Regions from separate parts of the Homo sapiens genome. Here all the other regions are reported to be linked to region 6. The links are microRNA targets in miRTarBase. Many come from high-throughput screens and were not tested one by one. Region 6 holds a microRNA gene; each other region holds the end of a gene's coding sequence.

Region 1 (3,319 bases), not on the chromosome of region 6:
TGCCAGGATATGGTTTTTTGTGCCTTTACTGCCTTCTGAGGTCTAGGACACCACAGGTCAGGTTGGTAATGGAAATTTTTTTTATTTTTTATTTTTTGCCTTTAATTTAATCTAAACCTTTTCTTTAGGTTTTCAAGGAGACCAAACAAAAGAGAGTGTCTGTTTTAGAACTGAGCAGCACTTTTCTACCTCAATGCAACCGACAAAAACTTCTAGAATATATTCTGAGTTTTGTGGTGCTGTAGGTAACGTGTGGCACTGCTGGCAAATGAAGGTCATGAGATGAGTTCCTTGTAGGTACCAGCTTCTGGCTCAAGAGTTGAAGGTGCCATCGCAGGGTCAGGCCTGCCCTGTCCCGAAGTGATCTCCTGGAAGACAAGTGCCTTCTCCCTCCATGGATCTGTGATCTTCCCAGCTCTGCATCAACACAGCAGCCTGCAGATAACACTTGGGGGGACCTCAGCCTCTATTCGCAACTCATAATCCGTAGACTACAAGATGAAATCTCAATAAATTATTTTTGAGTTTATTAAAGATTGACATTTTAAGTACAACTTTTAAGGACTAATTACTGTGATGGACACAGAAATGTAGCTGTGTTCTGGAACTGAATCTTACATGGTATACTTAGTGCTGCTGGGTAATTTGTTGGTATATTATCTGGTTAGTGGTTAATGCTTCCTTTAAAAATAATTGAGTCATCCATTCACTCTTTTTCAGTTTTATCTGTCAATAGTAGCTACATTTTTAATGGGAGCACCTTTTATCCCAAAGTGCTTTATAAATTGAGTGGACTGATATATATCACACCCAGGTATCACTGTGCTGTCCTTTGCTGTCAGATTTAGAAATGTTTTTAAGAGCTATGTGAAAACAGACAATATTAGTTTAGGTCGGGAACTGAGATATTGTAATCAAATAGTTAACATCAGGAAGTTAATTTGGCTGGCAAAATTCTAGGGAAACTTGGCCAGAAAACTGGTGTTGAAGGCTTTTGCTCATATAAACAAGTGCCATTGAGTTTCAAATGACCAGCAAATATATTTAGAACCCTTCCTGTTTTATGTCTGTACCTCGTCCACCCCTCAGGTAATACCTGCCTCTCACAGGTACAGCTGTTTCTTGGAAATCCTCCAACCAAATAGCAGTTTTCCTAACTTGATTAGCTTGAGCTGACAGACTGTTAGAATACAGTTCTCTGGCCACAGCTGATGAGGGCTTTCTGTACTGCACACAGATTGTGTACTGCACCCCAGTCCAGGTGACTGGTACCCACTCGAGTTGTGCCGTGCACAACCTGTCCAGTATATGCATGTGGTGGCCCTACTGACTGGTAATGGTTAGAGGCATTTATGGATTTTTAGCTTTGAGGAAAAACCATGACTTTTAACAAATTTTTATGGGTTATATGCCTAAACCCTTATGCCACATAGTGGTAAATAATTATGAAAAATGGTCTGTTCATAATTGGTAGGTGCCTTTTGTGAGCAGGGAGCATAATTATTGGTTTATTATGGTAATTATGGTGATTTTTTAAATATCATGTAATGTTAAAACGTTTTCTAACAGTTTACTGTTGCTTATCTCCAAGATATTATGGAATTAAGAATTTTTCCAGATGAGTGTTACATAGATTCTTTGAATTTAGTATAAAAGTACTGAGAATTAAGTTTGTACTTCCATAAGCTTGGATTTTAAACACTGATAGTATCTCATGAGTAATGTGTGTTTTGGGAGAGGGAGGGATGCTGATTGATATTTCACATTGTATGAAATACCATGTTTGAAACTCATAGCAATAATGCTATGCTGTTGTGATCCCTCTCAAGTTCTGCATTTAAAATATATTTTTTCTTTATAGGAATTGATGTATACCATGAAGTCATTGTCAGTTGTAGTAGCTCTGATGTTGAATGAGATATCATGTTTTAGCATTCCATTTTACTGACTAGGGTAGAAGAACACTTTTCTTGGCTACATTTGGAGGATACCCAGGGAGTCTTGGGTGTTCCTTATCTGGGGAAGCAAACATTTCACTAGTCTCTTTTTTTCATCCTTTAAATTGTAAATTAAGGATTACTCAAGCTCACCATTATTCAAGATTGGGACTCGCTTCCCAGTCGACACTCTGCCCTGCCTGTCATTGCTGCAAAGAGCTGCTGCTTTGCCAACCTAAGCAAAGAAAATACGGCTTCTCTTGCATTATTTTCCCTTTTGGTTGGTTTGTTTTCTAGAAGTACGTTCAGATGCTTTGGGGAATGCAATGTATGATTTGCTAGCTCTCTCACCACTTAACTCACTGTGAGGATAAATATGCATGCTTTTTGTAATTAACTGGTGCTTTGAAAATCTTTTTTAAGGGAGAAAAATCTCAACCAAAGTTATGCTCATCCAGACAAGCTGACCTTTGAGTTAATTTCAGCACAACTCATTCTTCAGTGCCTCATGACTGAAAACAAAAAACAAAAAAACGAAAGCATCTTCACAATGAAGCTTCCAGATAGCACCGTTTTGCTAAAAGATACATTCTCATTGTTTTCCAACAGTGATGGCTTCCACATAAGGTTAAACAAACTAGGTGCTTGTAAATAATTTATTACAGTTTACTCTATCGCATTTCTGTAACATGAAATGCATGCCCTTCTTCAGGGGAAGACTGTGGTCAAGTTAAAAAAAAAAAACAATATTAAACAACATGAAACTGCAGTCTGTTTTTGAAAATGAGAATGTCCTAAGTGATTCAGAAGAGAGGAGGGAAGTTGTGCACTCTGAAAATGCATGAAAAACAAAGGCAAAAACTAGTGGGAAATGTGTAGAACTGTTAACTGAGATGGCTTCGAGTCTTCCTTCTGGAATCTGTTAAATTTCACAAAGTCATGAGGGTAAATGGAGAAAATATTTCTGGGATTACAATGAATGTAAGCCCAAATTGTGGAATTGCCAGTAACCTGGATGGGGAAAAGCATTTCCCATAGCACTCCATGTAATATGAGTGCTCTGTGAGATGTTCATCAGTGTTTTATAGAAATGGTGTTGCTGGGAAACCAAGTTTGCACCTGGAAACTTACAATGCACTTTAGCGCAGTAAGGGCTTGGCATCCGGTAGTGAAAAACTGTCTAACCCAGCATTGCCCAAACTATTTTGACACCAGGACCTTTTTCTCCTTTGGGATACTTATGAACCTCTCACTAATGTCCTGTGGAGAACATTTTGGGAAACACTATGTTAGATAGTTCTTTAAGGAGACAAAACGGTAATGAACAGATAGCACTGGGGCAGAATATGCATGCATTTTGTAACGTCCAGTGTGGCGTTGAA
Region 2 (3,000 bases), not on the chromosome of region 6:
GGACACTTTGAATTGAGGAAAAATGGCACCATGCCACGAGAGGTGGCCAGAGACCCGCAGCTATGTGAAAAACTGACTGTTCTGTGCTCAGCTCCAGGAACTCTAAAAACACTCGCTCGCTATGCCGTGCGCCGTAGCCTGGGACTCCAGTATCTCCCCGATGCAGTGAAGGGCCTTCCACTGCCAGCTTCTTTGAAGGAATACCTGTTACTTTTAGAATAGCCGGAGAAGATGTTTGCACCATCGTGCAGGCAGCTCTGGGTGAGGTTGTCCCTGCAGTACTCCTTGTCACAGAAAACAGAAAAACAGTTGTTCCTGTTGTGTGGTTTATAGATTTCGAAGCAACATGTCACAACAATAACCTCCATAGCACCTCCCCTTCCCAAACCAAACAACCCAACAAAAAAAATCCCTCACTTTTGTTTTCTGTTTATTGCTTACCTGGCTTTTTATATTGCATTTTGCAAAAGAAGAGGTCTCCCTCAATCCTCCCCTTTAGGGAAGGAGTCAACAGTGTAACTAAATTTCTCTAGGAAGATGGAAAGTACTTAAATAATGTGTGTGTGGTTTTCCTTTGGGGACGTGGTTAACGGTCCAGAAGAATCCCTTCTAGAAAGCATTTTAGGCCAGCCATGGTGGCTCACGTCTGTAATCCCAGGACTTTGGGAGGCTGAGGCAGGTGGATCACCTGAGGTCAGGAGTTCGAGCCCAGCCTGACCAATATGATGAAACCCCGTCTCTACTAAAAATACAAAAATTAGCTGGGCATGGTGGCATGCGCCTGTAATCCCAGCTACTCAGGAGGCTGAGACAGAAGAATCGCTTGAACCTGTGAGGCAGAGGTTGCAGTGAGCCAAGATCGCGCCATTGCACTCCAGCCTGGACAACAAGAGCAAAACTGTCTCAAAAAAAAAAAAAAAAAAAAAAAACCATTTTAATTGATCTGTGAAAAAACTTAAGAAAATCACAATTTCAGCTAACAGCAATTGTGTCCCAAAGATGAAGATACTATAACCTCAAATGGTGCAGATCCAGAACTGGGCTGGATGACATCCCTACTGTGCCATGTCCTGGGGCATTTGGAAGGGACTGGACCTCTTTCCCCTCATCAAAGGAAACAGCAGTCTTTGCCTCTTTCTGTTGGTTGTGCCCAAGGGCTACAGTAGCTCTGAAATAACAAGAGCTCTGTAATAACAGTAATAAATAGCTCTGAAATAACAGTCCTAAGAACTCCTAAAGTCCTGAGAACTTTTCTTGTAATGCAGCTTTTTCTCTTCCTGAGAAACAGTGTGTTCTAATGGGATTCCCAGGCAGTTCCTACACCTACGGTGTGTGTTCCAGCAGGGAGGAGTTATGGGCTGGGCTGCCTTTTCCCATGGGTCTTCATTCCCAATGGAAAGTTCACTCTGCTTAGTTTGGAATTATTTTTCTTTCAGTTGTTCTGGAACCTTTGCTTTTTATTGATTTATACAATACAATTGGTGGGAGGGTGGACTTGGGATGGGAGTGGGAAAAGCATGTAAGAGCTCCTTTTGTGATGGTCCATCTACCCAAAAGAGATCTGCTTTAGTGAACGATACTCTTTCATTTTTCTAAATTAGATCAAGTTGTTATTGATTTTAGATGACTTGTATGCAAATTTGAAAAACTTTTTTTTTTAAAGCTGATTGGGAACTACAAACAATGAATGGAATCTACTGACACAGCTAATTGGAAAACAGATGTCTTCTTCTGTCCTATTGATGCTGGTGTTTAAAAAACATCACTTAAAAAAAAAGAATAAATAGTTCTAAAAGCAAGTTTGGCAATTTCTACTTTTCCTACTTTTCTCCAACCCCCCTTAGAAAAAGTTCTTCGTTTACTGCCTGGCTGTTCTATGTAACTTTCCATCCCAACCTTTCTCCCATTAGCAGCAGTGATTCTGGGCATTGCTGGAGTGAACAGGAGGGCTTGGGCAGAGTATCTGAAGAGCTTCCCCTTCCTTTATACCTTCTCCCACCCCAAATTTGGAATTACTGCTTTTATGTTCTCAACTCCAGCTGCACATAAAATCACTAAGGAAGCTTTTTAAAAACACTGGTGCCAAGATTTCACCTCATACCAATTCTTTGGAATTTTCTGGGGTAGGACTGGGGGCTTCAGTGCTTCAAATATAGCCAGGAATGAGATTCCACTGTGTTAGTCAGTGGTTCTCAATCCTAGTTATTAATTAGAACCACCTAGGAAAATTTTTAAAAATACTAAAGCCCAGGCTCCACCCCCAGAGATTGATTTAATTGGTCCAAAGCAGACCTAGTAGGGCTGGCCACAGTGGCTCACGCCTGTAATCCTCACACTTTAGGAGGCCGAGGTGGGAGGATCATTTGAGACCAGGAGTTGAAGTCCCCATCTCTACAAAAAAATAAATGAATAAAGTAGACCTGGGCATGAGTACGTTCAAAGGTCCCAGGTGATTCTAATATTCTGGTAGATTTATAAACTGCTTGAGATGCTACTTCATTTCTCATCATAGATACTTAATATTCTAGAAAGAGAAAGTTTTGTCCATGTGGGAAAAAATGTTACCTGTTTCTCAGTTACTTCATAATCACTTATGTGGTTGGTGGCTAATAAATTCTGCTTCACCTCCACTTAAGAGTTCAAACACAATTTCACTTATCTTTTTAGCTCTGGGGAAATAGCATGCACCTTCATAGGTTTTTTTTGTTTGTTTTTAAGTGGTCTTCACTATGCCTTTTTTTCCCAGATCGTATCATCATCCTAAATTTTTTACTCTTTACAGAGTGACATTTTCCCTCTGATTAACTTTCCCTGAGCCATCCTTCCCTCTTCATTTTCTTGAGGAAACAGCTCTAAGATTAAAGACAGGAAAGAGACAGAGAACCTATAAATCAATGGCAATTAGCATTTAAAATGTTCTGAATGAATGCCTGAACCTTCCCTTTCACTTTGTTTTCATAGGCCTTATGGCTCTGGGGATTTGATATGGCATGATAAGGA
Region 3 (3,000 bases), not on the chromosome of region 6:
GTCTCAAACTTCTGGGCTCAAGCTATCCTCCTGCCCCAGCCTTCTGAGTAGTTGGGACTACAGGTGCCTACTACTCCACCCGGCTGCCTTATTTCATGTGGGGAAGAGTTTTGTAAATGTGATCAAGTGACAAGTTGAAATTGGAGCAATACATATCTCATATTCATTTGACAGTTTGATTTATTAGCTTTTATTATTTAAAATGTATCTTCTCATATACTTTTAGACAGAATTGAACATATAATTTACGGCAATCTTATGCATAATAATGATTTGTATGTCTTTGTTTTAGGAGAAAAGCCTTTCAGCTGTAGCTGGAAAGGTTGTGAAAGGAGGTTTGCCCGTTCTGATGAACTGTCCAGACACAGGCGAACCCACACGGGTGAGAAGAAATTTGCGTGCCCCATGTGTGACCGGCGGTTCATGAGGAGTGACCATTTGACCAAGCATGCCCGGCGCCATCTATCAGCCAAGAAGCTACCAAACTGGCAGATGGAAGTGAGCAAGCTAAATGACATTGCTCTACCTCCAACCCCTGCTCCCACACAGTGACAGACCGGAAAGTGAAGAGTCAGAACTAACTTTGGTCTCAGCGGGAGCCAGTGGTGATGTAAAAATGCTTCCACTGCAAGTCTGTGGCCCCACAACGTGGGCTTAAAGCAGAAGCCCCACAGCCTGGCACGAAGGCCCCGCCTGGGTTAGGTGACTAAAAGGGCTTCGGCCACAGGCAGGTCACAGAAAGGCAGGTTTCATTTCTTATCACATAAGAGAGATGAGAAAGCTTTTATTCCTTTGAATATTTTTTGAAGGTTTCAGATGAGGTCAACACAGGTAGCACAGATTTTGAATCTGTGTGCATATTTGTTACTTTACTTTTGCTGTTTATACTTGAGACCAACTTTTCAATGTGATTCTTCTAAAGCACTGGTTTCAAGAATATGGAGGCTGGAAGGAAATAAACATTACGGTACAGACATGGAGATGTAAAATGAGTTTGTATTATTACAAATATTGTCATCTTTTTCTAGAGTTATCTTCTTTATTATTCCTAGTCTTTCCAGTCAACATCGTGGATGTAGTGATTAAATATATCTAGAACTATCATTTTTACACTATTGTGAATATTTGGAATTGAACGACTGTATATTGCTAAGAGGGCCCAAAGAATTGGAATCCTCCTTAATTTAATTGCTTTGAAGCATAGCTACAATTTGTTTTTGCATTTTTGTTTTGAAAGTTTAACAAATGACTGTATCTAGGCATTTCATTATGCTTTGAACTTTAGTTTGCCTGCAGTTTCTTGTGTAGATTTGAAAATTGTATACCAATGTGTTTTCTGTAGACTCTAAGATACACTGCACTTTGTTTAGAAAAAAAACTGAAGATGAAATATATATTGTAAAGAAGGGATATTAAGAATCTTAGATAACTTCTTGAAAAAGATGGCTTATGTCATCAGTAAAGTACCTTTATGTTATGAGGATATAATGTGTGCTTTATTGAATTAGAAAATTAGTGACCATTATTCACAGGTGGACAAATGTTGATGTTGTCCTGTTAATTTATAGGCGTTTTTTGGGGATGTGGAGGTAGTTGGGTAGAAAAATTATTAGAACATTCACTTTTGTTAACAGTATTTCTCTTTTATTCTGTTATATAGTGGATGATATACACAGTGGCAAAACAAAAGTACATTGCTTAAAATATATAGTGAAAAATGTCACTATATCTTCCCATTTAACATTGTTTTTGTATATTGGGTGTAGATTTCTGACATCAAAACTTGGACCCTTGGAAAACAAAAGTTTTAATTAAAAAAAATCCTTGTGACTTACAATTTGCACAATATTTCTTTTGTTGTACTTTATATCTTGTTTACAATAAAGAATTCCCTTTGGTATATGGAATGGTCATTGCATTTCTTAAAAACCATTCTCAACTCTCACCTTGACATTGATCACTTATATTATCCAAGGACTTAGTGTCTGAATTTCTCTAAGGGTCTCATTCAAATTTAGAACTGTAGGAGTATGTCTTTAACATGAATCCATTTAGAGAGTATACAAAGTGAGGCCAAATATCTATTTGGTGAGGTAATATGTGAACCAGCCAGTTCTAAGAAAACACATTTAATTTTTAAACATTGTTTTTTATTTTTCAAGACACAGTTTCACTCTGTCACCCAGGCTGGAGTGCAGTGGCATGATCTCAGCTCACTACAACCTCCACCTCCCAGATTCAAGTGATTCTCCTACCTCAGCCTCCAGAGTAGCTGGGATTACAGGTGTGCACCACCATGCCCGGCTAATTTTTATATTAGTAGAGACGGGGTTTCGCCGTGTTGGTCAGGCTGGTCTCAAACTCCTGACCTCAAGTGATCCGCCCATCTTGGCCTCCCAAAGTGCTAATTTTTAAGCATTCTTGAATATTTTGATATTTAACAATATTTTGATATTAACGAAATCTTGTTAAGTAGTATTCAAGTTAAAGGGAACACCACAGTGAATAATTACAAGCAATGAAACTGCCGTGGCAAATGAAAAGAAGGCTGACTTATTAAATAGCGAGTAAATTGCTTACCTCTAGAAGTTAGACAATTAAGTGATACCTTAAATGCAATAAACATATTGGTACTTAAGCCTCATGAAAAGTAATCCACCTCTGAAGAGAAACACTTGTTAGTCACTCATCAGTGGAAGGAACTAAGGGCTGTAAATGCTACTTGGTGTATAGAGTATAATTTTGTAGATTACTATTTTAGCTTGCACTGAAATCCCCTTGTGGTCAGGAGAACATCTTCCACAATGCCCAACTTAACCAGTGACCTAGAGTCTGCCTCATTGTTGAATAAACACCATGGTAAGGGACCGTGTACTCACTTGGCAGCAGTTGTAGGACAGGTTTCTCAGGACATCTGTACACCTGTTGCTACTTTTCTTGGAAACTTAATACCACATGAGTATGACATAGCTGCTGGAGAGAGGCTTTGCCATTCTGGCC
Region 4 (3,326 bases), not on the chromosome of region 6:
AAAACAAATCCTATGTATTACCTACTCAAAACAAAATGTTTTTGATGTGTGGCTTTTTTTAATTAAAAAACGTTTACTAAGTGCTGTGTGATATCCTTGTTTGGATCCTGGGGCAGAAGCAGGACATGTAGAAAAACTGATGCTATCTGAAAAAAGTCTGGAGTTAATAGTGATGTGGCAATGTTGAACTCTTCATTTTGACAAATGTCCCATGGTAATATGTCAGCACTGGGGGAAACTGGGTGGGAGGTACACAGGAGCTCTATCATCTTTGCAGCTTTTCTATAAATCTAAAATTATTCGAGTATAAAAAGTTTATTAAACTTTTTTTTTTTTTTTTTTACTTCAGTGAAACCTGTCAAATTGCATCTGCAAAATTGTTGTGTCTGAGAAAGTTAAAGCTCACTCCCTTCCCTTTTCTCATCTTGGTTTAGGTCGAAGAATTCCATCCACTGACGCCAACCTGCCATCTGGCGGTAAGGGCTTCAAACTCCGAAGACAGCCTTCAGAGCCAAAGCGGAGCTGCTGCTGACCGAACCTCAGCCTCTCAGACTTGATGATGAAGTAGGTGGTCCTGAAAGTTAACAGGAGGGCTGGGGTCCCTGCCACCAGTTTTCACCTAGCCAGTCTTGAGTCTTCTCCGTGCAAAAAGGATTCACAGAAATGGACCAGTTCTGTTCTCCAAAGACTGCAGCAATGATATTTCAGTCTGTGAACTTCTATTATGTAAAGAATCTCTAGTGTACAAAGGGACTACATCGTTGGCTTTTGACCTTGCTGAAAAGGAACATATAATTGTATGGATGGTAGGATTAAGTTGTTGAGTAGTTTTGTAATCAAGATTTTATGTAACATTTGTAAAGGGAAAATTAGCACTTTTGTGGTTCTTAAGGGAAAAGAAACAGACCTTGTGGAGATTATAATTTCCTTGGTTTCTGTTACCACTGTTAGAGGGAGTTGTATCATTTAACATATAGTAGGATAGTTTAAGTGTAGGGAGGACAATTATTGTCTGAAGCTAAAATGGGTTATTTATAGGACTGATGGAAATGATTTCATCTCTGCCATCTCTAAAGCACTTTTCATTGAACATGTTAGCCTAGGATACGTACAGTAAATTAACAATGATAGCAGCAGATGCCTAGCTCATCCTGGGTTTGCTTCTGACCTTGTCATGTGTGTGCCACCAAACACGTTATTGGCACCTTTTTAAATAAGCTCTCATGATCAAGATGGTGATGGTAGAGAAGCTGCCCGGAATAAACTGAATTTCATATGTTCTAAAATGACTAGCAATGGTTTAAAAAGGAAGAAGAGTGGAAGTGAAGAAGGTGGTATAAATGCTGTCAATTTTTTTTTAACCCAAGTATTTTGGTGGGGAAAAGCAAGTATCTATTGCTTAGCATATGTAAAGTTGTAGTCTATATTTATGGGGCCATTGCTTAAAGATTATAAATTATGTAAATACATTAATAAATTCTAAGTTTCATTTGACATTCCATTGAATCTCGCACCCAGTCTTGCGTATGCCTGCCCAGTTTTCAGCCTCTTAACGGGAGACTCAAGCACATTGGTATTGTATAAAGGTATAGAGCACTTAGCTTACAATCTTTAAAGGTTTCTCTGCCTTCCCTTCTACCCACCCGCCTCCCACCAGATCCCATCTGGAAATCATAATAAAGACATATGCCACTTTGACAAACCTGACTAGTCCTTACTAGCCTGAGGGTAAAAGATTAAGCTCCAACCTCAAGTCATTTACCTGGTCTTGGTAATAAGTTTCTTTTAGCTTGTACAGCATCCTCAGACCAACTGAGGAGCTTTCCTTGTTAACAATTTAGCTTATCTTTCTGTTTCCTTTATTTTTCCCCTGCCTCTGTTAGTGGTTAACACTCTTTTCCCTCAGGGAGCCTAATGAGGTTTTTAATATCATCTAAAAATAAAGCATTGAAGTGAAGTTGGTGAAAATTTGTTCCTGGTCTAATTTGGCACCCTTCCAACCTGAGTATTGTAGGGGAAGGAAATTTACAAGATTTAATAGGAAATGAAACAGCTTGAATTTCAAACTAAATTGTATTTTCAGAGCTATCCTGAAACTGAACAGCTGAAACTTTAAAAAATAATTGGTATTATTTTGTGCCCCCCACTTAATATGGATAGATTTTAATGGGAAAATTATAATTCAGATTAAATAAAAAACAATTCCCTTTTCCCTGTTGTATATCTTAAGCATTTGGAATTTTTTTTATCTTCTGAAATCATATAAAAAGAATGTCATTAGTAAAAATTCTAACTTCGTTTTGTTTAAAAGACATGTGGATGCTCCATGCCCCTAGGATTTTGCTTCCTCCCCGGTGCTAAATTAGCAAGCTCCTAGAGAAGCCATGTGATTCCCAGAGCCAGGCGCTTTACACCTAAAGTAGTTTGACTTTCTTCTGTATACATCCAGATGGATCCCAGGCATCCGGGCACCACCCTGGTGTGTCCCTAGAATTCCCACTGCTGGGCCTCTATCTCCATGACAACAAAATAAAAACAGAGGTTGCTTGACTCATTACCAAAGAGGCAAAGCATGTGCGACCCTTTCTGTCTTATTTTACCAAAAGATGGTGCAAATCTATGACCTTCACATTTTTTCCACCACACCCACCAGTAGCTGTTGGTGATTGCATGGTGTCTCGGTGCATGGGGAAAGGCAAGGTCTTCTGAGCTCATCTTAACTGGTGAGGCATCTGGATGTGTCTGATCTTACTGTGATGTTTTACTGTACCGAGCCCAATGTGGGTCCATCTCATCAGCCCTTTGCTGATTTCATGATTTCTCACCCTCCCTCCCATATGTAGGGTGTGATTCTGTTTTATTATAGCCACATGTTTTATTAACAGAATGAGTGATATGAAGCTTGTACTTATGCATTTCTCGGGCCTCTTCCCTCATTTTCATCAGTCTGTCTAAGAACTTGACTCGGCACTGTTTCTCGTGTAATATCCTTCTAATGCTTAGCAACAACAACAAAAAATTGCTCTCTCAGATCCATAATCCATACTCAGTGAAAGCAGGGAAAAAATATTTTCACTTATTTTATTTGCTTCTAAAATGCAAAGATGAATACTAAAGTCAGAAGCAGTGTTTCATTTTGAACACATTTTGGATTATTAAGCTGACTAAGCAATGATCTAATACACATTTCATATTTTCTTTATAATAATTTCTTATGGAGAAGAGGCTATATTTCAAAGGAATTGAGACATACTCCCATCTATAAACATGTTTGGTTTTCTTACGATACAGGGCCATTTTTTTAAAACTCTCAGGACTGAACAGAA
Region 5 (3,281 bases), not on the chromosome of region 6:
TGTCTAAGCCATTCACTCAGCTAATACTAATGTAGAAAATATATTTTAAAGTCTAATTACTAATACATAGCCAAAGGAAACCCATAAACTTGATAATCCATAAGGAAACAATAGTAAAAAAATGTTTTGGGGCAGTCTGCAAAACAGCAATTTTGTTTAGGAAAAGTGGACTTTGTTATGCTTTTCTGCATGGCCAAATTATACCAGAAGATAATTCCATAGAGATGCAGCAATCACCTTTTTTAAAGATTTCATTAAATGAAGATATTCTTGTTTTCTGTGGTAGTCTTTATTATTATTTTTTAGCTATTGATACATAGCATGGCAGCAAGATTACATCAGTAATGTAATATAATACAGCTTTTTTCATTGAAGCTTTGTACCTTACTATACTCTAGGCTATTTGGAGTGTTCCCCCACTTGCACTAAAGTACAACTATGATGTCTCTACTGCCTCTCCCAGTGAAATATAAAAATATTGCACTACATTACAGATATAGTTTACAAATGTCATTAGCAGCATTACTGAGCTTTCTATAATTGTGGTCTACAGAGTTAAATACTTTTAAAACATGAGTAGATTCTTATAAAACCAAAGTTTTGCATTATTTCAACAGCTCTTTCAAATGCATCAGTTTCAGCAACATGCTTGGGTATCATGAAAACTTCCATGGTTTAATCAATAAACACCAGCTACTTACAAGTAGTCCACCTTCCAGGTTATCAATGGTAAGTTATTTTTTATAAAGTGGTTACACACTGAGCAGATTGCCTCAAGTGTAAGTTATGGAACAATACTTTAGCTTTCAGGGAATTTGGTGTGTAAATTCTTCTATAGCAGTGTTCTTTTAAAATAAGATCACGTGGCCGGGCGTGGTGGCTCACGCCTGTAATCCCAGCACTTTGGGAGGCCGAGGCAGGTGGATCACGAGGTCAGGAGATCGAGACCATCCTGGCTAACATGGTGAAACCCCGTCTCTACTAAAAATACAAAAAATTAGCCGCGCCTGTACTCCCAGCTACTCCGGAGGCTGAGGCAGGAGAATGGCGTGAACCTGGGAGGCGGAGCTTGCAGTGAGCCGAGATCATGCCACTGCACTCCAGCCTGGGAGACAGCGAGACTCTGTCTCAAAAAAAAAAAAAAAAAAAAAAAAAAAAAAAAAAAAAAAAGACATCACGCTTAAATAAGTAATGAAGTATACTGAGATGTTTTTGTTATAAACTTGGCTAAGAAAGGTATTTAGTACCTGAAATTTTCGCTTACTAAAGTAACAAAAGGCATGAGACTTGGCTATTGATTTTTAAAGTGGAATAACTTTTCTCCCCTCAAAAATGTCTTTCTTACTCATATAAATAATGCCTTTTACTTGTATATCTTTTTACTGTTCAAAGCACTTTTGCAGTTATGCTATTGTTTCCCTCACAACAATACTGTGAGGGAGGTAAAGTATTATTATTCCCATTTTAGAGATGGGTCCTTTTGTAACTGCCTATGCTTACACAGTTCATTAATGGAAGGGCTTGAACTTAAACTCTTTTATGGAGTCCTGGAGTCTAGACCTGGGCCCCAGTCCTTAATATTACACCATGCTTTTTCCTGCCAGCAATAAAAGCTGCTCCATCTAGTTTTAAACTCATGTCAGTTTCACTATATAGCAATCATCATAGCAGTTACCTACAAAGGGACAAACATATACTTGTCTATTTTATAGGTATATAACAGACCGAAACCATTAAGGTACCCCAACAACAGTCGAGCTTACTTGTTTTCCCTCAGTCAAATGTTACTGGGACCCGTAAAATGGACCCAGTGTGAGTATATCTTCATTTTCAGAGAACTGGTCCCAATTCCTATGTATGAATACTATTTTTGTCATTCTTTTCTTAATGAATACTCACTACAGAAGTATTCAGAATGATCACCATTCCTTTACAACTGTAAGACGCCAAAGCAAAAAGTATATTTTGCATGATTCCTTTCCTTCACAGAATACTCCTACATGAAAATGTTTTTTCTAAAACAAAACCAGCCCAAACTAGTTATCAACACAGTCATTTTAAAAAGAGTCCTCCAAAACTTTAAATACCCTTTCACATGCTTTATTTCCTATGGGAGAACTGATGAGGAAAATTATCATAAATGTTTAAACTTTTAATTATAAAATTTAAATTTCCATTTAAAAGGAAAGCATCAATATTTTAAAAGATTATATTTCAAAATGCTATGTTACTGTTTTTCAGTAATTAAGTCTTGTTATCCTCTCTACAAAATTCTTGACCAACTGCAATCTACATTTATTTCCTATTACATTGTCTTTCAATGTAAGCTCTTCAAATTAATCACCATATTTTTACCATACAGCTGCACAAAAGCTTTAGAAAAAAATTTCACAGAAGCATCGAAAGCAAGCAATATATGTAAAAAATTTTTTTTTACTAAATCAGCATAACAGACTAAAGCTGCAGCATCTGCTTTCATGTTACATTTGGCAAAAACAAAACAAAAAGCACCCCCAAACCCCCAAAATAACAAAAATCTCAAGCAAGTAGAGACGATAAACTTCATAACACAAAAGAAAGATTCAAAACCTGTTCCCTCAGTGATTGCTGTTGTCAGTTTGGGCATGCAGCAAATTTGTTATAACCATGATGGAAATGAAAATATTTTAAGAATCTAGACAGTATTCTATTTAACACTAATTCAAAAACCAAGAGGAAGAAAAATAACACAAGGGGACACCATACATACATAAACATGAAAAGCTAGCTTACATAATTACATAATTAGAAAAGTTAAATAATTTAGTAAAAATAAATTCCCAGTATAAACCCAAAAAAGCATAGCTATAAATGCAATCCAAAACAACCAATTAGTAAGCTGGTCATGTTTTTACTGGAAAACAACCTTTCTCATTTTTGTTCTTACACAAGCAAGTAACTGGAGAAGCAGGCCAGAGTGCATACGAGGATTTAAACATGGTTGTATCTGTGGTACTTTAGATGCAACTTTACCCTGTTCATTTGAAAGCTTAAATAGACCTGTCTGCTACACAGACTCGGATGGGCCAAATAAGTCATCTGATATGCTGCTGAATGGCTGAGAGTCTATTAGTTGGCTTATTTCATTATCAAGGTCTTCTTCTGTATCATCTGTGTACTTGCTTATTTTTTTGGAGTGCTGGTCTAAAGACAGACTTTCTAAAGTTTCTATATCTTCAATGCCTGCTCTGTAGTGAATCATAAGAAGTGTTAGAGCTTGTAGCCTTTCACCTGATTTAGCT
Region 6 (3,326 bases):
GGAATTACTCAAATGCAAGGATTATGTCAAACATTCATAGCACAAGTGTTTTATACAAGTAATTACTTTCTTAAAAATTTAACTTTTATTTTAATTTCAAGGGTATGTTTGCAGGTTTGTTATATATGTAAACTTGTGTTATGGGGTTTGTTGTACAGATTATTTCATCACCCAGGTATTAAGCCTAGTACCCATTAGCTAATTTTTCTGATCCTCTCCCTCCTCCCATCCTCCACCCTCTGATAGGCCCCAGAGTGTGTTGTTTCCCTCTATGTGTCCATGTGTTCTCATCTTTTAGCTGCCACTTATAAGTGAGAACGTAGTATTTGGCTTTCTGTTCCTGTATTAGTTTGCTAAGGATAACAGCCTGCAGCTCTATCCATGTTCCTCCAAAAGACATGATCTCATTCTTTTTTATGGCTGCATAGTATTCCATGGTGCATATGTACCATATTTTCTTTATCAAGTCTATCATTGGTGAGCATTTACTTGATTCCATGTCTTTGCTATTGTGAATAGTGCTATAATGAACATATGCATGTATATGTCTTTATAATAGAATGATTTATATTCCTTTGGGTAAATACCCTGTAATGGGATTGTTGGGTTGAATGGTAGTTCTGTTTTTAGGCCTTTGAATAATAAATAATTTCTTAATACTTATTCGGCACTAAATTCTACTTAACTGGTTAATTGAATTTCATTGAGTTAAATTGAAACATTTGGAGTGCTCTACCCTATAGAAGTCACTAAGTATTGTTAATAAAAACCAAATACTAATCCTCTTTCCATCCCGGGGCCTTTACCCTTGCTTTGTCTATGACTGCAACATTTTCCCTTAAGACTACGGCTCTGATAAATTATCCAGTCCACTACTCAAAATGTCACCTCTTCAGAGTACTTTTCTGAACAACCAAAATGAAAGCAAATACATACTCTGCACAAACTATCTCCTTATCCTGTTTTACTTTCTTCATGAAACTTACTATTATGTGACTTTATATTACATCATATATTAATGTATTTATTAGTTTATGTATACCCACACAGATTTCATTGCAGCAGGGAACTTGTCTGCAACCCCAGAGGCAAAATGAAATGTATTACTTGGATAGTGTATTAGTCAAATGATTTGCACTGATTATGATCTTTTGTGACCTTAAGCAAATCACAGTAGCCATCTACTATCAGTTTACCTCCACATAAAATGGAGGACCCCAATATCCCTGTTAGTTTCGGCATATAATTGGTATAGGATCTTATAGAACCTCTTTTTTTTAGCAATTCATGCTACAATTTTATTTTTATTTTTATTTTTTGTGGGTACTTAGTAGTTGTATATAGTTATGGTATACAAGACATATTTTGATACAGGCATGTAATGCATAATACTCAAGTCATGAAAAATTGAGTCTCCATCCCCTCAAGCATTTTATACCTGGGTACTCTCAATGTTTCTCTCTGCTATGAAAGGAAAGTTAGCTTTCAAGATATTATCTGATGATACAAGATTTTTAGAAAACAATAGACTTCACAGGGCATGTTATGTCTTCCTTTGACACTAAAGAGATCTAGTCTTGTTCCTGGCCCTCAGTGACTCATCCCCTTTTTCTGTAGTAGGAGCTCTCCTGGCTTAAAGTAAGGCTAATAGAGGGGTCAGGTCAGGATTGAAGAGAAGAAAAACAAGTTCTGTGGCTCTCTTGAGGTTGACCCAGAAGGGTCATTAATGCAGACATTGACTAATATCTATGGGTAAGATCAACAGTGAACCTGCATCTGAGACATGCACAGGCCCAGGAAGTGATACTTTTGATAAGTCTTCATTGGCACTTCTGAGGTCGCTGAGGATGGAGATCTGTGCCATTTACTGGACAGAGCAAGCCCATAAGAGCATGACATTGGAAGTCTATGTAAAAAGACTTCAGATCATCCTCCTCATTTTAGCTCACCATCTAGCAAGTTCAAGAATGGCACCTCTTCCCAAAAGTTGAAGCAATAATTTGGCCTCTCTGGTATTTAGAATTTCCTGAATTAACCCCAAAACAGTTGAGTCCTGAGAACCATTGAGAACCAGTTTTCCCAGGATTAACTGTTCCGAGAGATAAAAACTATTTTAGTAAGAACTTAATTTCCAAAGGCAAATTTCCCTGCTCCCTGTTCATCCCTCACATACACATTTCAAGTCAATGCAGTCTTTTCAAAAGAAAATCAAACCAGGACAATTGCCTCTGATATAATTGGTTTAAGGAGGAGAAGTAGATTTCTAATCTGAGGCTGTATAAATGTATCCCACTTTTTCAAACTGGTTATCATACTTTCTGAAATTCCACCATTGGGTTTTATTGCTTTAGATTAAGGCACTGCTATGTCTATAAATTGTTTAGGTAACAAATTCTTATAAGCCATTGCCCCTTCTTTTCTCGTATCTTTCATCTTTTGTTCCATGGCCTTTTTTTTGGTTTATGTCCTCAGTCTCAGGACCCCTTTGTCTATAACAAACAAATGGGTAACAAAAATCTCTGCCTGACATTCTAAATTCTTGATCAGTTTATCACCTTTTATTCCCAGTCAAATATATAAAACACATAATTTGCATCATTTTTACTCTCTCATCATTCCTTTCCTTCCTAACTTCCTCCAAACTGCTTCTTTTTCCATCTTCCCTACTCTACCCTTACCACACCATTCCAGCCTTCTTTCCAACTTATCTTTCCAAAGGCTCTAATAAATTTTATCTACTCTCACTCTCCCAGTTTTTTTCATTTGTTTGTTTTTGAATTTTGAACACTTTTGACACTGTCTATTGATTCAACCCAAACGTCCAACAATGATAGACTGGATTAAGAAAATGTGGCACATATACACCATGGAATACTGTGCAGCCATAAAACATGATGAGTTCATGTCCTTTGTAGGGACATGGATGAAATTGGAAATCATCATTCTCAGTAAACTATCACAAGAACAAAAAACCAAACACCGCATATTCTCACTCATAGGTGGGAATTGAACAATGAGAACACATGGACACAGAAAGGGGAACATCACACTCTGGGGACTGTTGTGGGGTGGGGGGAGGGGGGAGGGATAGCATTAGGCGATATACCTAATGCTAAATGACGAGTTAATGGGTGCAGCGCACCAGCATGGCACATGTATACATATGTAACTAACCTGCACATTGTGCACATGTACCCTAAAACTTAAAGTATAATAATAATAAAAAATGTATATATTCAATGCCCACTATGTGCCACACATTCTCCTCCTTTCTAAAATATATTTTGTTCATTGTCTTTTTTTTCCTTCCTTCCACACTCCCTCCC
Region 7 (3,000 bases), not on the chromosome of region 6:
CAGTGGAGAAAAGTTTTACATATTCTCACCTGTATCGTAATTATAGTTCCGGATTCGAAGGGAAAGTACTCGTCTGCCTTGGGGGTCAAAAGGAGGATAAAATGAGGTATATACAGGTTGAGTCTACCTACTACCAAAATCCATAATCTGAAATGCTCCAAAATCTGAAGTTTTTTTTGTGTGCTCACATGAGGCTCAAAGGAAATGCTCATTGGAGCATTTTGAATTTTGGATTTTCAGATTAGGGATGCTGAACTGGTAAGTATAATGCAGATATTCCAAAATCTAAAAAAATTCAAAATCTGAAACATTTCTGATCCCAAGCATTTCAGATGAGGGATACTTAACCTGTAGCTACTTAAGGAATGTTTTTTTATGCACTCATATTGTGCCACAAAATTTCTCACTACACCAGGGATGGCAGTAAGTGAAAGAGTCCCTGTATTTCCATGTGTTATACTTTGAAAAGTTATTGACTGAGTTTAACTCATGTAATGCAATTTTTCCTCCAAAGGAAAACCAACTCTACCAACAATCACAAAGATAAAAACTTGCGCCAGAGAAACACAAATTAAGTACTGCTTACAATGTAAGTATGGCCTTCTGTAGCAGTCTTAAAAATTATATTCAAATGAATGTGCCTCTATTGACCTTGTTACAAATTCTTCAGTAATTGGTGTTATAAGATATTTTAGTTCATTTCAGAGCAGCTGATACTGATGAAGCCAGTTCTGTCTGCCCAGTTTAGGGACTGGAAAGGAACATTTTTCAGCTGCGTTGTTTTTTGTTGTTGTTTGGATTTTTTAAGATGGAGTCTCACTCTATTGCCCAAGCTGGAGTGCAGTGGTGTGATCTCGGCTCACTGCAACCTCCGCCTCCCGGGTTCAAGCAATTCTCCTGCCCCAGCCTCCTAAGTAGCTGGGATTACAGCTGCCCACCACCATGCCCAGCTAAATTTTGTATTTTTAGTAGAGACGGGGTTTCATCATGTTGGCCAGGGTGGTCTTGAACTCCTGACCTCAAGTGATCCGCCTGCCTCAGCCTCCCAGAAGTGCTGGGATTACAGGCATGAGCCAGTGTGCCCCGCCATCAGGTGCATTGTGTCACATGTTTATATAAATGCCATTTCAGAAGACATATTTTAAAATCAACACTTTTCACTACTATTATATCTTTACAAAGAGGTGAAAATTGTCACCTTCTTAGGTGGCTTATTCCCAGAGGCCTACTAGTCTTACCTCACGTCTGGGGGCAAGACAAGAATGGCCAGGTAGCAGCAGGGCCAGAATGTCATCTTGTTAGGCATATGGAGATCAGAATTTCACACCACATCCCTGAGCGTGCTGTTTGAACCAAAGTTTTGTGTGGCACACGGTGTAGTTGTGAGTGACAGTGCATAATCCCTTTATAATTTCCAAATACATATTTCTTTACAGATCTTTAGGTTCCTGAAACTGGTGGCAACATGACCTGCTAAAATTTTCTGCTTGGACCTCTTTGGTTCTCTCCCCTTTCAAGTGAGCAACACCACAATGACTGTCTAAAGCATGCCTTATTTAGCCTCTCCTGTAAGGGTGATCTAGCCAGGTACATTTTAAACAATGCTTCAGTGTAGAAGGTGTAAACTATTTTGGGCTTGATGTGCTGTGAATGTTGCTTTTTTTTTTCCTTTGTTAAAATATTTAAATAGAAGTGAAAAGGTCCTCTGAGGATCAGATCATGCATGCGCCATTTTTTACTTAATGCAGCTGTTAAATTGGCAAAGCTCTAAAATGCACTGCTGCCATCTAGTGATACACTTTTGTAAAGTACAGCAAAACCTACAGATATATACAGTATATAAATATATATATATATATATTTATATTTTTGGGGGTGGGAGAAATCCAAAATAAAGTAAATGCTTGTTTCATTTTTAAGCTGCTGATATTCATTCCTTATTGTATGTTGTCAGATGAGGAAATTGTGCAGTTCTGGTACATAAAGATGAGTAATATAAACTGAAATCTATAATTTTAAGGGCTTAACCTGTGACTTTAATAAGCTGGAACAGTCCACTGAATGGGTATAATGAATTGCAGTATATACGTATGATTGCTTTTTAAGTGATTATCTTTTCTTCTGTTAAGTCATGTAAATTCATAAATCCTTTTGCACTGATGTGTTGAACCTTATTCTTGTACATTCATTCAATCAAGGCAAACTTTTATAATTTTTCTTTTGTTTCCAATGACCTTGAAATGTTATAGCATGGTAATATTCTATGCAACTATAGTTATACTTTTTGGTTTGACACTGTATTTTTTCACATTGATTTACTGGTTGATGATAGATTTTATAACCTAACGGTTCTCATGCGGTGCGTAATTGTAGATGCATGTACTTGTGTGTTTTGTGTAATTATTGAAGTGCAATGATGTATAAAAAAGTGGATTCACCTGTTTTTAAAAATAAAACATTGATAAAAGGTGTTTGGATAATACTCTTTATTCTAATATCTTCTTTAATTTTAGGAGGAAGCATTTTTCAATACTTTGAAGTTCCTTAGTTATATATGTATATAGAGCATTAATTTCTCAAACCCGCCAGCTTTTTCAGTTCCTTTTCTACCTCTTCCACAAATGCTGGGAAATTCTGATCCATAAGGCACAAACGTAGGAAGGGGCCTAACTCTTCTGCACCCCATGCAGATTGTTCATAGACATGGGGCAGCTCCTCCGATGCCAGAAGAGTCTGCAGGGATACCAGAAAAGTCGTTACAGATTACAGGTAAAAGCAATACCTGGCTAATAGAACACAGGCAAATAGTGCTTTAAGGAAAGATTAGCGAAATACACACCAAAAAAATTAGTGTTAATTAGCTTTACAGGCTTCCTTTACATAGTTTTACTGTTACATTTACAATTTTGTATATTAATATGTATTCTGAATACACATAGCATGTGAGATAATCTTGTTGCCCTAAGGAAAGAATTTCAAATGTACTGATGAAATGTTTGC

The links. The annotated mature microRNA hsa-miR-4328 reads CCAGUUUUCCCAGGAUU and lies in region 6 at 2,071-2,087, shown strand. An mRNA with a match to its seed (bases 2 to 7 or 8) in the 3' UTR can be bound and repressed. Matches are read on the target gene's strand: a 7mer-m8 pairs with bases 2 to 8, a 7mer-A1 pairs with bases 2 to 7 and ends in A, and an 8mer does both.
Region 1: miRTarBase lists GPAM as a target of hsa-miR-4328. Seed matches in the 3' UTR shown: 7mer-m8 at 975-981 and 7mer-m8 at 3,110-3,116.
Region 2: miRTarBase lists ASB8 as a target of hsa-miR-4328. Seed matches in the 3' UTR shown: 7mer-m8 at 895-901.
Region 3: the mRNA of KLF10 is a reported target of hsa-miR-4328. Seed matches in the 3' UTR shown: 8mer at 1,375-1,382.
Region 4: the mRNA of RAB22A is a reported target of hsa-miR-4328. Seed matches in the 3' UTR shown: 7mer-A1 at 1,262-1,268 and 7mer-A1 at 2,094-2,100.
Region 5: miRTarBase lists PDZD8 as a target of hsa-miR-4328. Seed matches in the 3' UTR shown: 7mer-A1 at 2,614-2,620, 7mer-A1 at 1,640-1,646 and 7mer-A1 at 632-638.
Region 7: miRTarBase lists NPTN as a target of hsa-miR-4328. Seed matches in the 3' UTR shown: 7mer-A1 at 1,998-2,004.

The regions. Positions count from the first base shown.
Region 1 is chr10:112,150,476-112,153,794 of GRCh38, reverse strand. GPAM (glycerol-3-phosphate acyltransferase, mitochondrial) reads left to right here. Exons shown (of 22, transcript NM_001244949.2): 22 at 129-3,319. The coding sequence ends at 245. Among named protein-coding and RNA genes, the nearest start is that of GPAM, 32 kb to the left of the region's middle.
Region 2 is chr12:48,146,588-48,149,587 of GRCh38, reverse strand. It overlaps ASB8 (ankyrin repeat and SOCS box containing 8), which reads left to right. Exons shown (of 4, transcript NM_024095.5): 4 at 1-1,799. The coding sequence ends at 222. Among named protein-coding and RNA genes, the nearest start is that of ASB8, 9.4 kb to the left of the region's middle.
Region 3 is chr8:102,647,684-102,650,683 of GRCh38, reverse strand. It overlaps KLF10 (KLF transcription factor 10), which reads left to right. Exons shown (of 4, transcript NM_005655.4): 4 at 293-1,900. The coding sequence ends at 552. Among named protein-coding and RNA genes, the nearest start is that of KLF10, 6.5 kb to the left of the region's middle.
Region 4 is chr20:58,359,172-58,362,497 of GRCh38, forward strand. It overlaps RAB22A (RAB22A, member RAS oncogene family), which reads left to right. Exons shown (of 7, transcript NM_020673.3): 7 at 435-3,326. The coding sequence ends at 532. Among named protein-coding and RNA genes, the nearest start is that of VAPB, 28 kb to the right of the region's middle.
Region 5 is chr10:117,280,222-117,283,502 of GRCh38, forward strand. It overlaps PDZD8 (PDZ domain containing 8), which reads right to left. Exons shown (of 5, transcript NM_173791.5): 5 at 1-3,281. The coding sequence ends at 3,047. Among named protein-coding and RNA genes, the nearest start is that of SLC18A2-AS1, 40 kb to the left of the region's middle.
Region 6 is chrX:78,899,965-78,903,290 of GRCh38, reverse strand. MIR4328 (microRNA 4328) reads left to right here and starts at 2,042; the gene lies at 2,042-2,097.
Region 7 is chr15:73,559,485-73,562,484 of GRCh38, reverse strand. It overlaps NPTN (neuroplastin), which reads left to right. Exons shown (of 9, transcript NM_012428.4): 8 at 515-589; 9 at 1,437-2,471. The coding sequence ends at 575. REC114 (REC114 meiotic recombination protein) reads right to left here. Exons shown (of 6, transcript NM_001042367.2): 6 at 2,472-2,733. The coding sequence ends at 2,569. Among named protein-coding and RNA genes, the nearest start is that of NPTN-IT1, 8.6 kb to the left of the region's middle.